4 separate regions of the Homo sapiens genome follow, and regions 2, 3 and 4 are each linked to region 1. The links come from fine-mapping of genetic effects on gene expression. A gene starts in region 1. Each other region holds a variant in brackets. All regions are shown on one strand. Distances are from middle to middle. Region 1 holds the start of DDX60L (DExD/H-box 60 like). Region 2 overlaps DDX60L (DExD/H-box 60 like). Region 3 overlaps DDX60L (DExD/H-box 60 like). Region 4 overlaps PALLD (palladin, cytoskeletal associated protein).

What was found.
Region 2: its variant is fine-mapped to the expression of DDX60L in whole blood (TOPMed, PIP above 0.99).
Region 3: its variant is fine-mapped to the expression of DDX60L in whole blood (INTERVAL, PIP 0.99).
Region 4: its variant is fine-mapped to the expression of DDX60L in whole blood (TOPMed, PIP above 0.99).

The regions. Positions count from the first base shown.
Region 1 is chr4:168,478,302-168,483,404 of GRCh38, forward strand. DDX60L (DExD/H-box 60 like) reads right to left here and starts at 2,191. Exons shown (of 38, transcript NM_001012967.3): 1 at 2,076-2,191. RefSeq lists an enhancer at 2,210-2,449.
Region 2 is chr4:168,413,803-168,418,905 of GRCh38, forward strand. It overlaps DDX60L (DExD/H-box 60 like), which reads right to left. Exons shown (of 38, transcript NM_001012967.3): 20 at 2,880-2,995; 21 at 1,855-1,997; 22 at 1,606-1,715. Among named protein-coding and RNA genes, the nearest start is that of DDX60L, 64 kb to the right of the region's middle. The variant T/C (reference allele first, on the strand shown) is at 2,449.
Region 3 is chr4:168,371,814-168,376,916 of GRCh38, forward strand. DDX60L (DExD/H-box 60 like) reads right to left here. Exons shown (of 38, transcript NM_001012967.3): 34 at 3,564-3,711; 35 at 1,853-1,995. Among named protein-coding and RNA genes, the nearest start is that of DDX60, 56 kb to the left of the region's middle. RefSeq lists an enhancer at 4,769-4,938. The variant G/A (reference allele first, on the strand shown) is at 2,336.
Region 4 is chr4:168,502,747-168,507,849 of GRCh38, forward strand. All of the region lies in intron 1 of PALLD (palladin, cytoskeletal associated protein), which reads left to right. All of the region lies in intron 1 of LOC107986198 (a long non-coding RNA gene), which reads right to left. Among named protein-coding and RNA genes, the nearest start is that of PALLD, 8.2 kb to the left of the region's middle. The variant A/G (reference allele first, on the strand shown) is at 2,466.

The DNA.
Region 1 (5,103 bases):
GCCAGACTATCATTTCAAATGAACTTAAGACAGATTATGCTAATTTGAGAGGGAATTAGGATGAAAATAGAAACTCTCTGGGTGTAATTAACGGCATAGGGAACTAACTAGAGCATAAGAAGCTGGATACATTTCTTAGAGAATTGTATTTCCAAATAAACTATGAGCTGCCTTAAAAATGGTTACATCAGTAAAACAAGCAGCAGGTTATAAAAAAGGGTGATATCAGTAAATCAACCAGCAGGTCTCCATACTTACAAAGCAGAAAATGAGCCTGCAGCAGGGAAAACCACAGAGATTTCCACCCACATCAACATAGCCGTGGATGATAATTAACATGGGTATTTTATTAAAAGCCATAAAGCTAATCCTGAGAAGAATTTTTAAAAATATATAATTCATATTAGAAGTATTTCTTTCACAGGGAGTCGTCGGAGTCTGTCTAAAGTAGATAAAACAAAAGACTGATTTGTAAGCATATAATTTATAAGCAACCAAGAAAGAAATGTATATCTTTGGAGTGGTAACGCCTCAGGAGAACTAAAACTGTGAGACTAAGTATGAAGGGGAAAGTAGTAGAGAAGGGCATTTAATTTTTGTTTTATGTCTTTCTCTTCTGCTTCAAATAAAACTGATCAATTATGACCCAGCATACCATGGGGTATCATACAGCAATTACTAAGTAAGACTGACAGGTACCAATAAATCATGAACCAAGAAAAGCATACCAGTATGACAGCCAAAATATCTTTTAAAGTGTATGGATCTAGAGATAGACAGATGATGGATCGATGGATGGACGGATGGTTGGATGGCTGGATGATGGATGGATGGATGGATGGATGGATGGATGGATGGATGGATAGAGAGATAGGAGCTATAGACAAAAACTTGTCTCTTTGTAGAGTATCAGGAAGGATTCACACTAAACTATCCCCAATATCTTTGGGATAGAAGGCGAAGAGCCTTGGAAGCATAACTCACCCTCATTTATTTTAGTACCCTCAACTCTCAGCACCTGAGTTCCACCAAACTTCAAACTGCAAATCTTAGATTGAATGGTATGTTACTGTTTTCAGGAGAACACTCGAAATCATGAAGGTCTGTATGTCGTTGATGTTATGGTTTGGACTTCTTATTGTGTCTTTAAAGGACTTGCTTCTGTTTGGTTCTGACCGCTTTTTCTAGCAGTCATTAGGAGCTTTCATAATCCTTAAGGCCCCATCACGGATGATGTCAGCTTCTTTGATTATGGAAAACCTTGAGAAGTTTATTATAAATTTATCAATGTAACTTTGTAAACAAAAGAGAAGCGGGAAAAAAGAACAAAGTACCTTTCCAGAGAAATAGTAAAACCTTATTTCCGCTATTAAGAGCTTAAATCCGGCCGGGCGCGGTGGCTCACGCCTGTAATCCCAGCACTTTGGGCGGCCTAGGCGGGCGGGTCACGAGGTCAGGAGATCGAGACCATCCTGGCCTAACATGGTGAAACCCCGTCTCTACTAAAAATAAAAAATAAAAAATAAAAAAAAATTAGCCGGGCGTGGTGGCGGGTGCCTGTAGTCCCAGCTACTCGGGAGGTTGAGGCAGGAGAATAGCGTGAACCCGGAAGGTGGAGGTTGCAGTGAGCAGAGATAACGCCACTGCACTCCAGCCTGGGCGACAGAGCGAGACTGACTCAAAAAAAAAAAAAAAAAAAAAGCTTAAATACAAGACGGAAAAAAGGGAAGCGGCTTGCTGCCTGTCAATGTCCAGGTTCGAATGGCTGTGCTCAGATGTGGTGACCCTTACTTTCTCCTCAGCACCCCAGATCCCCAGGCCCCCTCGGGTGCAGAGGACCCGTTAAATGCCTGAGCACTCTCCTCTCTCACGGTGGTTGTCCCTCTTCCCTACCTCTCCGCGAAGCTGCCGCCCGAGCCCAGTGGGCGCCCCAGCTTCCCTCGCCCGGCGCGCACGAAGCCACCAGGCCACCTCCCCGCCCGGTCCATCTGGATGTTGAAGGAATCCTAGAACCCCCGCGGGACAGCTCCGCTCCAGGGTCCCTAGCGACACCCGACGTCACCCGCAATCCTCACCCCGGCCGCCGAACCTGCTAGGTCCAAAGAGCTTCGGAGCTGCACGCCCCGCGGGGAGGAGGTGGAGCAGAGGAGACCGAGCGCAGAGCCTGGCGTCGGACTGGGCGCTCTGAGCCACACAGCAGCCAGCGCCTGAGTTTTTATCTAGGGAGTTAGTTTCGGTTTCTTTTCTCCACCGCGAGGCCTTTTCGATTTCCGCAGTTTTCTGGAGGTAGAATATAGGTCTGCATTGGTTTACTCTGAGAATCTTAGGGAAGTAATAGTAGAAGCGATGATATGCTATCTGGGACATGCATGTAATTGTAAAGGGAAAGAAAGCAGAGAAATCTGGGACTCTAAACAAGGAATTGAGGCTGAGAGTAAATGCAGCACGCTAAGCACTATGAAAGTCTGCGGTGAGGTGTGGCGTTTTTCTTTTCTGGCAAGGTACTGGACAGGCAAAAATGGAGTAAAAAAGGATTAGGGGCTTTGAGTTTCTGTCCTAAGAAGTTCATTTTATGAAAAATTTCCAATAGTATAACTGTCCAGTGTGAACATTTGAAAGACCAATCATCTATCACAGAGAATTTAAATTGAGAAGAAGAATGCTCTTTAGTTTTGTCATCAAGCTCATTAATGTTTGAAATTCGAGTTTCAACCCCAGCCCATCATGGTCTTTAGTGCTCCAGACGCTTAATTCCATGACGTTATGCATGTGCAGAATATATTGAGATTCAAGGTGGTGGTGAGGGTGCCCCAGTAACGGCATGGGGTAATAAATGGAGAGAAATCGAAACCGGAAGTTCTGTCTTCAAGAAAAGGAAAGGGTGGAAGTGACTTGTTCACAATAGAAAGAGCCCAGAAGAACAAAGTTTTTTCTCAGACTCTGGAATATAAAGTGGCTTCGAAAAGGAGGTGAAAACATTGCTCACTTCTGTCAGGATTTTTCTTTAATTTTATGTTTGGTTGAAAATAGTTATGATTCTCTTTCTCAATGAGGATGACATTGAGAAAGAACCTGAAATGACTCATGATTAAGTCATGAGTTCATCTCAGATGAATTCCTCTCTAGCATCTGATACTGGACCTTTGTATCATAAGAATGCATTTGCTAGCAGCAGAAAATTGGGCTTTGCTGTAAAAGCATTCATTGAGCTTTTTATGTGCCAGGCAATAGGCTAAGCCCTTAACATGTATTATCACATTAAATCTCACAGAAATCCCATGAGCAACTTTACTGTTGCTATTTTATGGATGAGGTAAATAAGGCTTAGAGAATTCAATTACTTGTCGATGACCCTACAGGTAGTTAATGGTAGCCAAGACTTCAAAATTTAATTCCAAAGATAATATCTACAATATTCTCTGTATATATTATCTCATTCCAGTTCTTTTAAATACTACAGTGTCATTATTCCTCCCCCAAAGCACATACAATTTAATGGGGATTTCCTCTTTTGGTTGTAGAAGTGGGCCCTACATGTTCTTAATATAATTGACTGTCTGCTGTTGTTTTTCTCTCTTAAAGATATAGATGTATCAGGTGGGGATTCCCTAGATGTTAACTCCACACATCCCACTTCCCACCGCAAAGTATATGTACAATGCACATAAGCAGACTCTACTCCAAATCAATATCCAGTTCTCTTCCACTTTAATAATATGTTACCATAACTCCAGCCTGGACATTATCCAGAAACTTGAAAATCATAAACTCCATTTCCACTTTTTAGAGACTTCCCCCTTGCCTCAATCTCTCAGTCTCCTTAGGAGCCCCACTCTTTCACCTCCCCAGGATCAACTCTGTGAACAGGCACTGAACCTTCCTCTCACTAACATTCTCAACTGCTTCATCCACTCTCTTTCCTCTGCACCTTCACTGCAACTTGATCACCTCAATCTAGTAAACCATTTTTTGCCCTTACCAGGACATTGAAGGAAATTGTCTAATATTTTTCACCTCAGATTTACTGTTTATGACTATAGGTTCCTGATCTTTTTTACAGTGGCCCTTAAAACCCTACAGCATCTTGCTGTTCTCTTCAAGTCCACTAAGAATATATCTGTTTTAAAGAGACTCCTTTTAACTGTCTGACACCTCCATCTAGTCCAAGAAGCCCATGACATGCTCCACATACAATATAACCACTCCCTTTTGAGTTGGTTACCTCCAGCTTCCTCAGGAATCTCACTCCATTCCTATATTGTTAACCTCTCTCTATTTACAGCTGTGGTAGACTGAATAATGGTCTCCCAAAGACATCTATGTCCTAATCCTTGTACCTATAAATATGTCATCTTCTGTTGCAAAAAGAACTTTGCAGATATTCCTAAGAATCTTGAGATGGGGAAATTACCCTGGATTATCTGGGGACCTGATATAATCAGAAGGGTCCTTATAAGAGGGAAGGACTATTATCAAAAAGGAACCAGGACAAGGATAATGTGGGAAATTATCAGGATTTCAAGACTGCAAAGGATGGTAAAAGTAAGAGACTCACTGCTGGGAAAACGTACTCTGGAGAAAAAGTCATGAGTACAGCTGGACAACCTTTTGCTAGTGCTTCAAAAAGATCTCTGTGACATACACAGGAAATCCAAAAGATTTCTGAGAATATCAGCAGAAACACTGCCAGCTTGAACTGAAAGGTACAGAGAGAGAATAAAATGAAAGACGGTTATAGGACTCCCAAAATTCCATAAGCAATAAACAGTCTGATAAAACTATTCAGCCCCAAACTTGTGCTATCTTTCATGAAGGATGACTCTGAGGGCAGAGCCTAGAGACACAAATGGTTATTCACAGGCCTTAAAACCTATGGAGTTAGCCTTGCAGATTTTTGAAATTTCTTGGCTTTTTCTCCTTCCATTTTCTCCCTTTGTGAACAGGAATATCTGTAACTGGTACCCTATTCCTGTTCCACCATTGTATTTTTGGAGCAAATAACTTGTTTTCTAGTCTTAAAGCTTCACATATGGAGAGAAATTTTGCCTCAGGATGGTTCATACCCAAAGTCTCAACTATACCTGATTTAATCATTTAGGTCTT
Region 2 (5,103 bases), 64 kb before region 1:
GAGGAGAAAGTTTATTCAAAGGGATAATAACAGAAAACTTCCCAAACCTAGAGAAATATACCAATACTCATATACAAGAAGATATAGAACACCAAGCAGATTTAACCCAAAGAAGACTATCTCAAGACATTTAATAATCATACTCCCAAAGGTCAAGAATAAAGAAAGGATCCTAAAAGCAGCAAGAGAAAAGAAACAAATAACACAATGGTGCTCCTATATGTCTGGCAGCAGACTTCTCAGTGGAAACCTCACAGGCCAGAAGAGAGTGGCATGACATAAAGGGCTGAAGGAAAAAATCTTTTATCATGGGATAGTATATCCAGTGAAAATATCCTTCAGACATGAAGGAGAAATAAAGACTTCCTCAGACAAAAGCTAAGAGATTTCAGCAACACCTGTCCTACAAGAAGTGCTAAAGGGAGTTCTTCAGTGGGAAAGAAAAGGATGTTAATGAGCATTAAGAAACCACCTGAAGGTAAAAAAACTTACTAGTAAGTACACAGAAAAACACAGAATATTATAACATTGTAATTGTGATATGAGTATATCTTCAGTAGAAAGACAAAACAATGAACCTATCACAAATTACAGCCACAGCAACTTTTCAAGACAGACAATACAATAAGATATTAATAGAAACAACAAAAAGTCAAAAAACTAAAACTAGAGCTACCTTATGATCCAGCAATACCACTGCTACATATATACTTAAAAAAAAGGAAATCAGTATATCAAAGAGGTATCCGGACTCTCATGTTTATTGCAGCGCCATTCACAATAGCCAAGATTTGGAAGAAACCTAAGTGCCCATCAACAAATTAATGAATAAAGAAAATGTGGCACTTAAAAACAGTGGAATACCATTCAGCCATAAAAAAAAATAAGATCCTATCGTTTGCAACAACATAGATGGAATTGGATGTCACTATGTTAAGTGAAATAAGCCAGGCACAGAAAGAAAAACTTCACGTGTTCTAACTTATCTGTGGGAGCTAAAAATTAAAACAATGGAATGCATGGAGACAGAGAGTAGAGTGATGGTTACCAGAGGCTAGCAAAGACAGTGGGTTGGGTGGAAGAGGGAATGGTTAATGAGCACAAAAAAATAGATAGAATAAATAAGATCTAGTATGTGATAGCACAACAGAGGGATTATAGCTAACAGTAATTTATTGTATATTTTAAAATAACTAAAAGAGTAGAATTGGATTGTGCTTAAGGTAATGGATACATACCTCATTTAGTCTGATGTGGTTATTATGCTTGAGGTAATGGATACATAATTACCATTGTGTATCCATTAAAGGATAAATGCTTGAGGTAGTGGATACATACCTCATTTAGTCTGACGTGGTTATTATGCATTGCATGTCTGTATCAAAATATCTCATGTGCCCCATATATACAGCTACTTTAGATGCCCACAAAATTAAAAATAAAAAATGTATTAAATTTAAAAAATCAATGAATAAAATAAAAGAATCAGTAAAGAAAGAAAAAGATTATCTATACATGCTGCAGTTCTATGAAGATTGAGTCCCTTTCCAGTTGCGATATACACTAAAAATTCCACTAACAGGACAAATACACTTTTATACTTACAATATCTGTCGTTAGCGCAGCACAGGGATGAAAATGATCAAAATAAACATCATCATGTTTTACTGAACATATATGCTTCTCTAAATCATTGTATCTCTCTCCACAGAGCACTAGATACGAAGAGCAAGAATATCCAAATTAATGGACATACGATTATTAGAATATGGATTTAAAACACAAAAATCCCTATAAAAAGCTTTGTAGTAAAATATAAAAATATATAGTAAAACATAAAAAAAATAAGCTTACCAAGTCTAACTTCATATGATTGATTTTTATATGAATGGTCTTGGAGAAAGTTGAGACATTTGTCAGCCTGTTTTTCAGAAATACATTTCTCTTCCATAATCTTGTCTGCCTGTTTCCAGTACTGTTTTACTGATTGCAGCCACCTTACAGAATAAACATGCATATAATTTAAATAAAATATAGAAGTATTTATCAAGAACTTGGATATTTTAAACAAAGAAAATTTCACAAGTTTAAAAATTTAGAGCATGCCCTCTCAATTTAAACCACCTGAGTTGACTTCAGAGCTGTGGACTTTGGGCAAATTCCTCAGCTTCTCTATGCCTCCCTTTCTCCATCATAACATAGAAGATAACGAAAGTATCTTTCTCATAAGGGTGTTGCGTGGCTTGAATGAGTTAGCGTGCCTGCCACATAGAAAGCACTGTGTGCTTGTTACCAGTGCTGCTGTTACTGCCATCGTCGCTGTTACCAGGAAAAATCAAGTCTGGTAACAAAACAATACTTGACGTTCATATAATGCTTTGTTGTTCTTATGATTGTCATCTGCAAGGTCAATGACTGTGTCCCAGTTATTTCCATTTTAGCTTTAAT[T/C]ATTGGATAAGGACAAAGAAAGGGGGATACAATTCTCTCTCTTACTTCAGATGACATTTACTTGAAAATTTTTAGAAATTGTCCTGCACAATTTCAGATCTGGCTATGGGAGACCTTGATTTTCTTTGGAGAAGATGTTTTCCTTCTCTAACTTCCAGGAAATATATCTTCAAAAAAATTTGAGAAAGCCAGACATGGTAATGTACACCTGTGGTCCCAGCTACTCAGGAGGCTGAGGTGGGAGGATTCCTTCAGCCCAGGAGTTTAAGGCCAGCCTGGGCAACAAAGCAAGACCACTGACGTTTCAAAGATTGGGTAATAAATTTATTTGAAAGTTATCATAGAAAAAACCTTAAAGACTTCAGACCATATAGACAGTATATAATTCAACCACTGAATATATAACAACCACTCTTTTTACCTATACCTACTTGGTGAGAAGATTTGGGTTATTTATGGTAGCTGAAAGAACCAAAAAGGGACATCGAATAATGACAAGGAGGAGCTCCCAAAATTTTGCTCCAACTTCTCTGCCAAGATAATGGACCTAGTAAAGAAAAAAAAATCAGTTGAAAAGTTGATGTCAAAATCGTAAATAAAAAATAGAAGCATAAAATCATCATGCATATTTTTCCAGTTTCCTATAAATGACCTAACCTAAATAAAGTGAATGGTGATAAATTCAGACAATAGACATCATGACACTTAACTGTCTCCAATCTCCATATCGAAACCATTATTAATTCCTACAGATTCCAATTCCAAAAATCTATTTTGAAGCTATGTTTTTCTCTCCATTTTTTGTTGTCATTGAAGCCACCATCACCTGGCTTTCTACAACAGCCTTCTGATTTTTCTCTTAGCTTCCACTCTTTCTCTATACTTTCTTCACATCATAGCCCTAATGGTATTATTAAACAAAAATCAAATTAGGCTACATACCTAATTAAATCCCTACACTGTCCTCCCAATGCATTTACAGTAAACCACAAGCTGCTTAACTGGAAGTGTAACTTCCTGCATGGTCTGGCTTCTTCCCACCTTTCCAACCCCATCTCAGGCCACTTTCCCCGCCATGCACTCTGCTCCCAACATACTGGCCTTCTTTTCATACCTTGAACACACGTGTTCCACCTGAGGGCCTTCACATATACGACCCTGCTACTTAAAATCCTCATCCACCTCTTAGCTGACCATTCCTGCTTATCCCTGCAAAGCCCAGCTGAAGGTCATTGCCTCAGAAACACCTTCCCTGAGTACCTGCTCCAAAGTTGTTGTTCTTACTTCCCATTTTGCTATTATCTTGGTGAAAACTAACTGATTTTTTTTTCTTCAGAGTTTGTATCACAATGTTTACTTATATTTTCATTGGTACATTTACTTATTTAATTGCTCTCCCCTTCACTAAACCACAAGGTCAGTACTGGCATATCAGGGAGAAAGCACAGTGTCTAGCACAGAGTAGGTACTCAATTAATATCTGTTGAATGAATGAATCAATCCTCTTTGGTTCAATAATGCAAATTAAGACTTAGAGAGGAGGTCCAAATTTTGGTCTTAAACAGAATACATCGTGACAATTGGGTCTCAGCTGGAAAGACTTACTAATCAAGGCTAGTAATAAATACATAAAGAAGAATATTTTCATATCCCTTCTGACTTTGATCTAGTCAGATAATCGCCCACTTTACCAAATGCTAATCTTATATTTTGTATCAGCAGGCAATTTCTCTGAACTTTCTAGAATAAACAATTTTTAAAGCCTTCTTACAATCAAGTTTTGTGCATGTATAAATCAGAAAACCAAAGTTACCCACATTTTGTTTTTTGTTTTGAGATGGAGTTTCGTTATTGTTGCCCAGGCTGAAGTGCAGTGGTGTGATCTTGGCTCACTGCAACCTCTGCCTCCCGGGTTCAAGTGATTTTCCTGCCTCAGTCTCCCGAATAGCTGAGATTACGGGAGCATGCCACCATGCCTGGATAGTTTTTGTATTTGTAGTAGAGACGGGGTTTCACCATGTTGGTCAGGCTGGTCTCGAACTCCTGACCTCAGGTGATCCACCCGCCTCAGCCTCCCAAAGTACTGGGTTTACAGGCATGAGCCACCACACCCGGCCTCATTACCCATGTTTTAACATTATTGTGCTTAGGCATTTTGAGATGAGACCACAATCCAAGGTTCTAGATCATAAAGATCAAGGTTTTTGTTTTGTTTTGTTTTCCCTTAAAACGGGAATGTTCAAAGTCAGCAACACACAATACAGCCTGATGCATAAAAGGAAACAGACTACTTTCAGCACAAAGAAAGCAGAATGACAGCATGTCTACCAACTCTCAACTTCACACAAAAAAGGAGTAGATTCACTACATAGGTTTATCACCTAGTTTTCCTTTAAGTTGAAAATTCCTTGAAGCAACAAAATACAAAGCTTGAATTCTATTTACAGTTCTTTCCATTCATTTTGATAATAACATAGCTATGTCCTTCCAGATCTACACCATTCGCCACCTTCCTCTCTGGCCAATGAGTCTGACCTTGGGAATTGGCTCACCCAGCCTCCTTAGCCCTCTAGCTTCTACTGGGTTTGGCCAGTGGGAAGCCTAGGCAAGAAATGGGAAGGAGAGAAGACAGTGAGGTCAAGGTCTTTATTCTTT
Region 3 (5,103 bases), 110 kb before region 1:
TGTTTGCAGTTTGAGATTTCCTTTGTATGAATCTGTTTCTTAAAGTACGTTCTGAAGAAGTTGAAGTGAAGGAGGCAGGCAGAGGGGGATTCCCATGGGGGTTGAGGGAAATAGGGCCCATTACAGTGAGGGAAAGGGCGTGTTACAGACACTGGCCACTGTGACACTAAGCATGCCTCGGGAATGGGCAGCACCGCTGAGGGAAATAGGAACTCTCAAAGCATACTGAAGGCAATTTCAACCATCCAACTACAATACTGTTAGCAACATTCACTAAGGAAAAATAAATAGAAGCTGATTTTAAGGTAGAATTTTCATCGTTATCTTCATTGGTGCACAGAATGACCTTGAAAGGAGTGTCATGTAGCTAGTGTCTCCCTGTGCTCACAGGGAGAATAAAATGAAACAGCACAAACCTCTGGGCTCCAGAGAGAAGAAAAAAGTGGCAGAGGAGGAGGCAGAAGAGGAGAAAATGAAGAGAAGCAAAACAAACAAACAAAAACTAAGTCTCCGTGGTTCTGGGCACATTAGACAAATTAATCTGTACAGAATCAGAAGGAATCTGCAAATTCTGCCAGTGCATGGGTAAAATTAAACTGTGGAGCAAGTTGGAATAAAAATACAAGTTCAGGCCAGGCATGGTGGCTCATGCCTGTAATCCTAGCACTCTGGGAAGCTGAGGTGGGTGGATTGCTTGGGCCCAGGAGTTCAAGATCAGACTGGGCAATATGCTGAAAACCCATCTCTACTAAAAATATAAAAAATTAGCTGGGCATGCTGGCACGTGCGTGTAGTTCCAGGTATATGGGAGACTGAGGTGGGAGGATCACCTGAGCCCCGGAAGTTGAGGATGCAGTGAGCCGAGATAGTGCCACTGCACTCCAGCCTGGGCAAGAGAGTGAGACCCTGTCACAAATAAAAAGTGGGGAAAGGGAGGGGAGTCGAGGGAAGGGGAGGGGAGGGAAGGGAAGGGAAGATACAAAAGTTCAATGAGAAAAATACATAATGTAGAATTTGTAACTTTGAAGAAGTTGTTTGATCATCTGTGTTCTTTTCTATTTGTTTACTTTGGGTATCAAATAGCTTTGATATCTATATTCTTTTGGATAAACTTTTAAATAATTTAACAGTTCTTTTAAAATGTCAATATTTATAATGAACCTGAAATTGCATTAGCAGCTATTAAAATTTTGGTTAACAAAATTTTTAGATATCAACCCAAACTGTGCAAGAAGATTCACGATTTTTTAAAATTCCTTTAAACGTTACATATGCAAAAATACTTGAAGACCATATTTGACATGATGTGTGACTCTCTGACCCAGGGATAAAATAAGCCAGTGCACAGTGTCAATCTTTATTATTAAATATATTCAATGTGGAATTTATTTCTCATATTTCAAATTAAATCTAAAATCTTCCAGCACCCTAATATTTTATCCAGAACCTCCCAGAGGTTCTAATGCTTTGTGGCCCCCTTTGTAGACCACTGTCCCCAAAGATCCATGTGGTCTGGAGTAGAAAAGCACTATGAGGTCTATGATCAATTTTAGAAAAATGTGAGCCGCTTTCTTTTCCTCTTCCCACAGCAAACCTGTGGCAAACCTCATTTAAAAAAATGAGAAAAAACAGTGGTGTCTGAAATTTTAGACAAAGAAGCAGGGTTTCTCAGGCCAACTCCATAGAGCATAAATCACACTGGCCTCCAGGGCTTCATTCTCTTAGACAATGATGCTCATCAGTGGACATTTTTCAGTGTTTTGGGTTTGAGGTCCTATCAAGGCTTCACAGCAATGTAACCCCACTCTGTCTGTTAAACACATTTTGTACATAAGATGTATCCTTCACTTACCTGGTTGATAGTCTCTGGTCGAAGCAAATCATTATCTGTGTTCCCCGAAAGACAAACAAATGGTGAAATGGCTACTCTTCCTTTCTTGCAGCTCATCAAGTGAGACACGAGTTGGGAGTCTTCACATTCTTTACCTGTGAATTCTGACCATTTTGGACTAGGTCACGTTAGGTTTTAAAAATCAGCCCAAATGTTAACCCTTTCAAACTCACTGTAGGTCAAGCCACAGTAGGTGACATTCATCTCATCAGAATGAAAACTGATTGAGATATGGTGCATAAAGTCATTAACACAGCTTGGCACAGAGTAATCATTCAATCCATGTTGACTATTAACTTATTATCATTACTCTTTTTTATTACCTGTTATTTTTGCCTATGAACTCAGATATAACCTCAGAAACCTCCTAGACATGATGTTCAGGCAGCTCCTACCAGTGGATTTGGAGCTGGCATAAGAGATAAAACAGAGGTTCTGTCCAGC[G/A]AGTACCATCTCGCTGGACTTGGAAGGCACCAAGTCATGCACTCAGGTCTGGCTCGTTTTTCCCATCACGACACAATCACACACTCCCATCATCTTTTCTCTGCACTACTTTCCTTGCTTCCACCATTATTGTCTGCATTTGCTCATGCTGTGTCCTACATCAACAAATCTTGAGTAGCTACAATGCTTACCTCCCTGTCTTTTACTCCAACTATGACTATATTAGGAGACAGGGGAATATGGGAATCATTTTATGGCTCCACTCTTTACTCTTAGTCTAGCTTCTTTCCATTTATTCTCCCCTAAAAGTTTCCCGCTATAAAATTGAAATTTGGAAGCTTAGTTACTTTGCAATACCAGTTACTCCTCAATCAAGAACAAATAATTGAAGCAAAGAATGATATTTGCAACGTCTGCTAGAACTTTCCGTAATGATGGAAATATTCTACCTCTACTGTGTCCAAAGTAGAAGCCACTAGCACTGGAAAGTTAACGTGACTAAAGCTAAAGTGACTAAAGAATTAACTTTTCAATTGTTTTATTTTTAATCAACTTAATTTAAATAGTGACACGTAGCTAGCTGGTGGCTACCATGTTGGGTAGAATAGACTTACGCGATGTTGACTATGTGCTATGCACTGTTTTAAGAAACTTATAAACATTAATATACCTAATCCTCTAAAATTCTGTAAGCTAGGTAATATTTTTAGTCATTTCATTTTACAGATTAAAAAAATGAGACACAGAAAGATTAAGTAACTGGCATGAGACCTCATGGTTAATAAGTAGCAGAGCCAGGATTTAGACCTTGGCATTCTGCTGCCAGTGTTCACATTTGTAACCACTATGCAACTGCCCCTCAGGGGAAAAAAATGCCAGAAATTATGCCGTTTTCTTTTTCATCTGTCACTTTTTCTGATCCAGTTTTCCAACCTGAACAGATAGGCAACTTTCCATCAAAATGGTTCATGAATGACTTTTATTTTTTTTCCTCCATTGCCCAATTAATATTTGGTAATTATAAAGTTTTTTTTTAATTGGAAAACAGAGCCATTATCACACCCTACAATGGGCTAAATTGTTTTCTGGGGATAAAACACTTGGGTTAGTACAGCTGCCCTGTAATAAGCTCCTTTACCAGCTTTGAAGCATCCAATATCCAGAGGCTTTCTTAACCAAGATTGTTTACTCTTTAAATTGTTCCGGAATGGAACTAAAATCTGCTTACTGATTCTTGACAAAGGGAGTTGATGCTCTTTTTTCATGTTCACCGACTTGGAAGCAATCAGCAGGAAGGAGGCAAAATCCTTCATTACTGCCAGGTTATACTCATATAAAGCAGCTTTAAAATCCTCCGGGAGTTCGGCAAGGATCACCTATGGGCGAAATACATTTCAGAAAGATCTCTTTACTTTTATTTAAAAAATTAAACTGCTTGGTGATAAGATTGCAGCATAGTTCTGTAGATTGATGCTCATTCATCAAAACCCTTGATTACTTTACTCACCTGTGAGATTAAGGTAAAATTTCCTTTTGATTTCAACCAACATTTATAAATGTAAGTATCTTTCCTTAAAAAAGTTATTTTGACTCCACTTAGCCAAAACCACCAATTTAATAGAAACATGTCCTACACTGATCTTAAACTTAGGTATATTTCAGAGACTTGAGGGACATATTTAGAGAGCAAGTAACAAGTTAGTGTAGCAGTAGTAGCGTCAATGCTTTATTGAGTTCAGATTATGTGCCAACACTGTGCTTTGCTGCCCCAAGCACTTGTTATATGTTAGCTCAGTTAATCCTGAGAACAACCCTATGCAGTAAACATTTTCATCTACATTTTGTACATGAGGGAGCTAACCCTCACAGAGGTAAACTTGTTCCAAACCTGACAGGTAGTAGATAGAGAAGTAGCTGGTATTGCAAGCTAACTCAGCTTCCAAATTTCATGTTTAAAAACAAATTCTTTCAGAATTAGGACTAGAAGTTTCTTTAGTGTGAGTTAGAAATAGCTATGACATTAGAAATGTTCTTGGTTTTCTTCTGTTACAATTATGGGTTTTATTATTTATTTGATATTTTCCTTAATTTATTCATAACCTGTACTTTTCCAATAATTGAGGTATTTTATAAGGGTAAAGATAATACAATATGATCATATAAATCAAAATTTGGTAAAAAGGAAAGAAAAACAAGAAAGAGACTAAAATGGGGCACAAATTATATTCCAAGATTCCTAGGAGCAAGTGTGAATGACACATTTCAGAATGTCTATGAGATAAACAGCTATTTATTCTCAGCACTAATATCAGGTAAGAATTTTCCAGGGGGATTCTTACAAAAGGCAACCGTGTGGACATAATAAAGAATGCCCCTACCAACTCCTTACAGTGGATAGTATGACAATTTCCACAAGCCTACTTCGGACTCAGCTCCATCTGTGGATGGACCAAGACAAAAGAATAAATTGACAGGTGCAGCTCTACACTCTGGTCAAAGTGATATGGTCTCTTTACTGCTATGCCTTCCATGTCCTGCCATTGTGCCACTGCTGGACACCGTTCTAGGGCAGCACGTGCTGCTTACCATGTACACCTTGTGTTGTTTGCCACCTTCTCGAATGTGTATGCTATACAGCCCCATCAGGAGAGCAAGCTCTTGGAAGGTAGCAACTATGTTTCCCAATCATGATTTTTGCTATAGTTTACACATATTTATTGCTCAATAAATCTTTGCTAATTGACTAATATAGAGCAGTTATCCCAAAT
Region 4 (5,103 bases), 24 kb after region 1:
TTTAAAATTTAGCCAGGCCTGACGATGCACACGCGTAGTTCTAGCTACTCAGGAGGATGAGGCAGGAGGATCCCTTGAGCCCAGGAATTCAAGGCTACAGTGAGCTATGATCATGCCATTGCAGTCCAGGCCGGGAGACAGAATGAGACCCTCACTCAAAAGAGCAGAATAACACTTAGCTGAAGAGAGCATGTCCCAGAGAAATGTCGCAGCAGGTTCTGGGAGGCTGAAAGCAAATCAGTCATCAGAACATTTCCTGCCTCGTGCCTTTGTTCACATGTGTGTCAAATCCTATCCAGGGCTCAAACCACATTTCAAACACCCGGTATTTCTTAGCTTTTCTCCATCAGCTGCTGTAACCCAGTGTGCTAAGCATTTGCCATACAAAGACGCCAGTCACAGCTCCTGCTTCCATTGGGCTCACAGTTGAATGAGGAAAGCATTCTCTAAACAAATACTTGTAATTTAATATGATGACTGCTGTGAGAAACGCAATGCAAAGTAACATGCTTGGAAGAAGAAGCAAATTATATTGATTGGGGAACTGTTAGAAAGCACCAAAAAGTGGTAAAATTTAAGAAAGTTTTCAAGGATGAACCGGAGTTTGAAAAACAGAAAGAGGGCTGGATGCAGTGGCTCATGCCTGTAATCCCAGCACTTTGGGAGGCCAAGGCGGGTGGATGACAAGGTCAAGAGATCGAGACCATCCTGCTAACAAGGGGAAACCCTGTCTCTACTAAAAATACAAAAATTAGCCGGGCATGGTGGTGGGCGCCTGTAGTCCCAGCTACTCAGGAGGCTGAGGCAAGAGAATGGTGTGAACCTGGGAGGCGGAGGTTGCAGTGAGCCAAGATGGAGCCACTGCACTCCAGCCTGGGCAACAGAGCGAGACTCCATCTCAAAAAAAAAAAAAAAGAAAAAGAAAAAGAGAAAGGAAGCACATTTTAAGCAAAAGGAGCAGCAAGTGCAAAGGTGTGAAAACCAGAAAGAATCTGAATTGTTTGAGGAATGGTGAGTGGGCCAGGGAGGCCTGAGTGCATGTGTGTTGGTGATGACAGAGGGTGAGGCTGGAGCATTTCCATCAGCTCAGGCTGTCCACGGGTATGTTTAACCTGCACATCGTGCTTTGGAACTTTTCTCATCAGCCGGGGAGCATCATAGGAAAAAAATAAAAACCAAAAGAGTGACGTGACACAATTTGTACCTATGATCTCTCTTACCATTTTTATCCCTTACTGCAATTTGTTGAAACTATTTTAATAGAAATTATCACGCTCCTCCTTGTAACTGAGTTATTTTTTACTCTTGTCTAATCCCTCCTACTGGATTGTAAGATCATTTAAGGAGAATAACTACGCCTGCCTCATCTTTGTCCTCCTTGAAGCTTCTCTTGCACAACTAAGCAGTTGTTCCGTTGATTTCATGTTCAACTTACTATTCCAGGAAAGGGAAGTAGAAGAAAGGAAGCATGACTGTAAGATGGGCGAGGCCAAGGAAGAGTCATTTCCTCCATGGTGAAGAACATAATGCTACGCAACTTCAAGCAAATTAAAAAACAGTTGTGGTTGGCCAGGCATGGTGGCTCACACCTGTAATCCCAGCATTTTGGGAGGCTAAGGTGGGCAGATCACAAGGTCAGGAGTTCAAGACCAGCCTGGCCAATATGGTGAAACCCTGTCTCTACTAAAAATACAAAAATCAGCTGGGAGTGGTGGCAGGCACCTGTAGCCCCAGCTACTCGGGAGACTGAGGAAGGAGAATCTCTTGAACCCGGCAGGTGGATCTTGCAGTGAACTGAGATCATGCCACTGCACTCCAGCCTGGGCGACAAAGCAAGACTCCAACTCAAAAAAAAAAAAAAAATGGCTGTGGCTAATGAGCGTTTTAGGGAAAATGACAATTAAGCTAAACTGCTAAAGCTGGAGATGATGGATAAGACAAGGATGAGAAAAAGAAGAAGACAGAAGAATTTCTAGGAAATTCAGATTCCTTCTGAGAAAAGTGAGGAGGCAGGGGACAGGACAATTTAAAGATGCCAAAGAATCCTTTATTCTTCAAAATTTCAAAATCTTTCAATGCTACTTACTAAAGTAGAACCACTTTAATGGCGTTGGTGTTTACCTCATTTCCTCTTCACTCATTAACAGCAGTATTAGTGGGTCTTTTTAGTCTATTTCATCTTCTGTGTCTATCACACCGGCATAGAATTACCAAGAGCACTGTTTGACAGAAAACATGAAATCTCAGGCAAATGATGGAGATGTTTGTGATTGTGTTTCATTCCTTTTGATTTTGACCTTTTCATTTTGGAGTGCTGACTGACATGGAAATCTCTGAAGCACAATTTTCCAGTGAACTTGGCCCGCTTGGAAACCGCCCTTGTTCATCCTCATTGAATGAGCATTTTCCCTAGACCACGTGCATGTTCCCGCGGCAATAACTGGCTTGCAAATTAAGCCTGAACC[A/G]GATATGCCATAGAACTATTATTTTCTTTTTCAATGTGCAAGCAGTTTTAAAGCTACACCTAATCCTGACTACTGGATCCTGTCAGATGGCGCCTCTTTAAAACCAAAATATGAGTTAATAAGCAGGTGAGATAATCTGCCTCCAGCAAACACTCCCTACATTAAGAATTGAAAATGTTTTCATCATTCAGAAGTTTGCTTTAAGCTTTGTTATATAATGCTCCTTGTGAAGTTTTAAAATGTATCATATTATGTTCATTTGGAACTAAAAAGCAATTGAATTAATAGCAGAACTCTGATTTCTGATCCACAGTTTTGTTAGTTTGATACATTGCTTAGGATTCTCAATTATGAAAACTACAATGGTAAGATGGTAAAGTGCATAGAACATGAGCTCTGGAGTTATTCCCTGGGCTTAAACCTTGGTTCTCCCACTCAGATTTTCTGCCTCCATTTCCTCCTTTCTAAACCAGAGGCTGCTGTGAGGGTTTTAAATGAAATAATCTACATGATGACTCTGGGCACAATGCCCACCGCAGGGTAAGCAGTCCATTATTAGCCATTATCATTATCAATCATCGTGATCATTAATTGCCTTTATATGTGTTATATGAAGTCATTAGGTAGCTAATGTTCTATAGAAGGGGTTGGCAATTTTTTCCTGTAAAAGTGCAGGTAAATATTTTAGACTTCATGTGCCATATAGTCTCTGTTGCAACTACTCAACTCTGACATTGGTTCAAAAAAACAAAGACAATCTCTACATTCAAACTCCTACCCATGAATTCCAACCCAGCATATATGTCAAAGGCCACCTATTCCTTGACCATATTTTCAATGGCCTTGCCCACTTCCCTCCCATTTTACCTGCATGTCAAACTGGGATCATCTATCTCTGTACCTTCACCTGGATGGCTGAGCTCTGGTGGAGAGAATTGCACAATCACACAGATTAATGACACTATAAATACATCACATCTAACTTCAACCAGGCCCTCACCTCTACCCATAAATCCTTCTTACAAAACTTCCTTCCCCCTTTTTCTACAACAGCTATTTCAAATCATCTTCTGTCCTCATAAACCTCCAATGCACAGAAGTCTCAGTTTGGGAACTCTCCTTTCTTTCTATTACAAATTTTGCAGAGAATCTCATGTTTCTCTCTCTCTCCCTTTCTCTCTTACCGCCCCCCATGCCCCAACACACATACACCCTTTGTTACTTCTCTCCTTTAACAATGAAAGAACTGCCCCCTTCCTACTGGAAGCTGAACACCTCATACTCCGTTTGTCCTATAATAACTCATTTCTTCTTACATCTTTTGAGAGCTGACCTATAAATCATCCCCGCTTTTTTACATTTATTTTCAGCTTCTCCCTTCTTACTGCCTAATTTGGTTTGTATAAAACATGTTACAGCGCTCTATCCTAAAAATGAACAAACCTCACCAGAGTCTATACTTTTGTTCAACTACTACCTTCTGTCTCTCCTTCTTTCTATGATCTTTTCAAAACAAACCACCACACCTGTAATATTTTCTTTCTTTCCTTCTTTCCTTTCCTTCCATGTAGCAATCTGGCTTATATTTCTGTTGCATACACCGAAAGTGCTGTTGCAATGGTGCTAAATATTCCCAAGTTGCTAAAATCAAAAATCAAAAGGACATGTACTGCTTCCTGAGATATTTTCTTTCCCAGCTTCCACGATATCTAGCTTTTCTTGCTTCCCTGTGATTATTCGAAGGATTCTATCTTCTCCTTCTTTTTTCCTCGATGACCTTATGCATTCCCATGTCTTAAAGTGCCACCCATAGGCTAATAATCCCCAATCCAGCTCTGTTCTCCCTTCTCCTGGGCTCTAGATCAGCATCTCAAATCTCCTAGACATCAACACCAGAGTTACCAAAGGTCCCTCAACTGCAAAAGGCTCAAATCAAAATCAAGCTTAAAAAATAAAATAAAATAAAATAAAAAAACTTGTTCCTCCACTTGTAGCATGTAAGTTAATGGTACCAGTCATCTGGTTGTTGAGGTGAGAAACCTGTAACCCTGCCTCTGCATCACCTCTGCCTTTAATCAATTACCAAGTTCTTTCCTTTCTATCATCTATCTTATGGACCCTGGACCCACTGCTTCCCTGAATCACCAGCTCTCACTTCAGAGTCCAAGAAGGACACATCTAATCGCTGTCTAGGCCAAGTGCCAAGACTTGTGCCCAGTCTCCAAGCGGCTGGGAAAGAAAATACTTGGAGATTTCACATCCCATTACAAGTGAGTTCAGTTTCTCACTGAGCCTCAGAATATGAGGAATTCTCCAAAATGAAGACGTCCAGATGACAGCAACACCAAACGTGAAACCATGATAAATGTGTGCACCCCCTGGATTACTGCACAAGCCTTCTCACGGACCGCCCTACTGTCAGTCTTGTCTTCCTCTTTCCCTACCTCTGTCCCGGATCCAGACTGCAATCAGTTATCTCTCAAAAATGTAAGTCTGGTGATGTTTCTCAAGGACTTAACACTCTTCCTTGCCTACTGACTACCCATAACATAAAATGCAAGTTCTCTGCATGGCTCCAGGCCCTCTCTGACCTAACTCCTGCTTTCTAGCCTTATCTCTGGTTATTTTCCCATCTCCA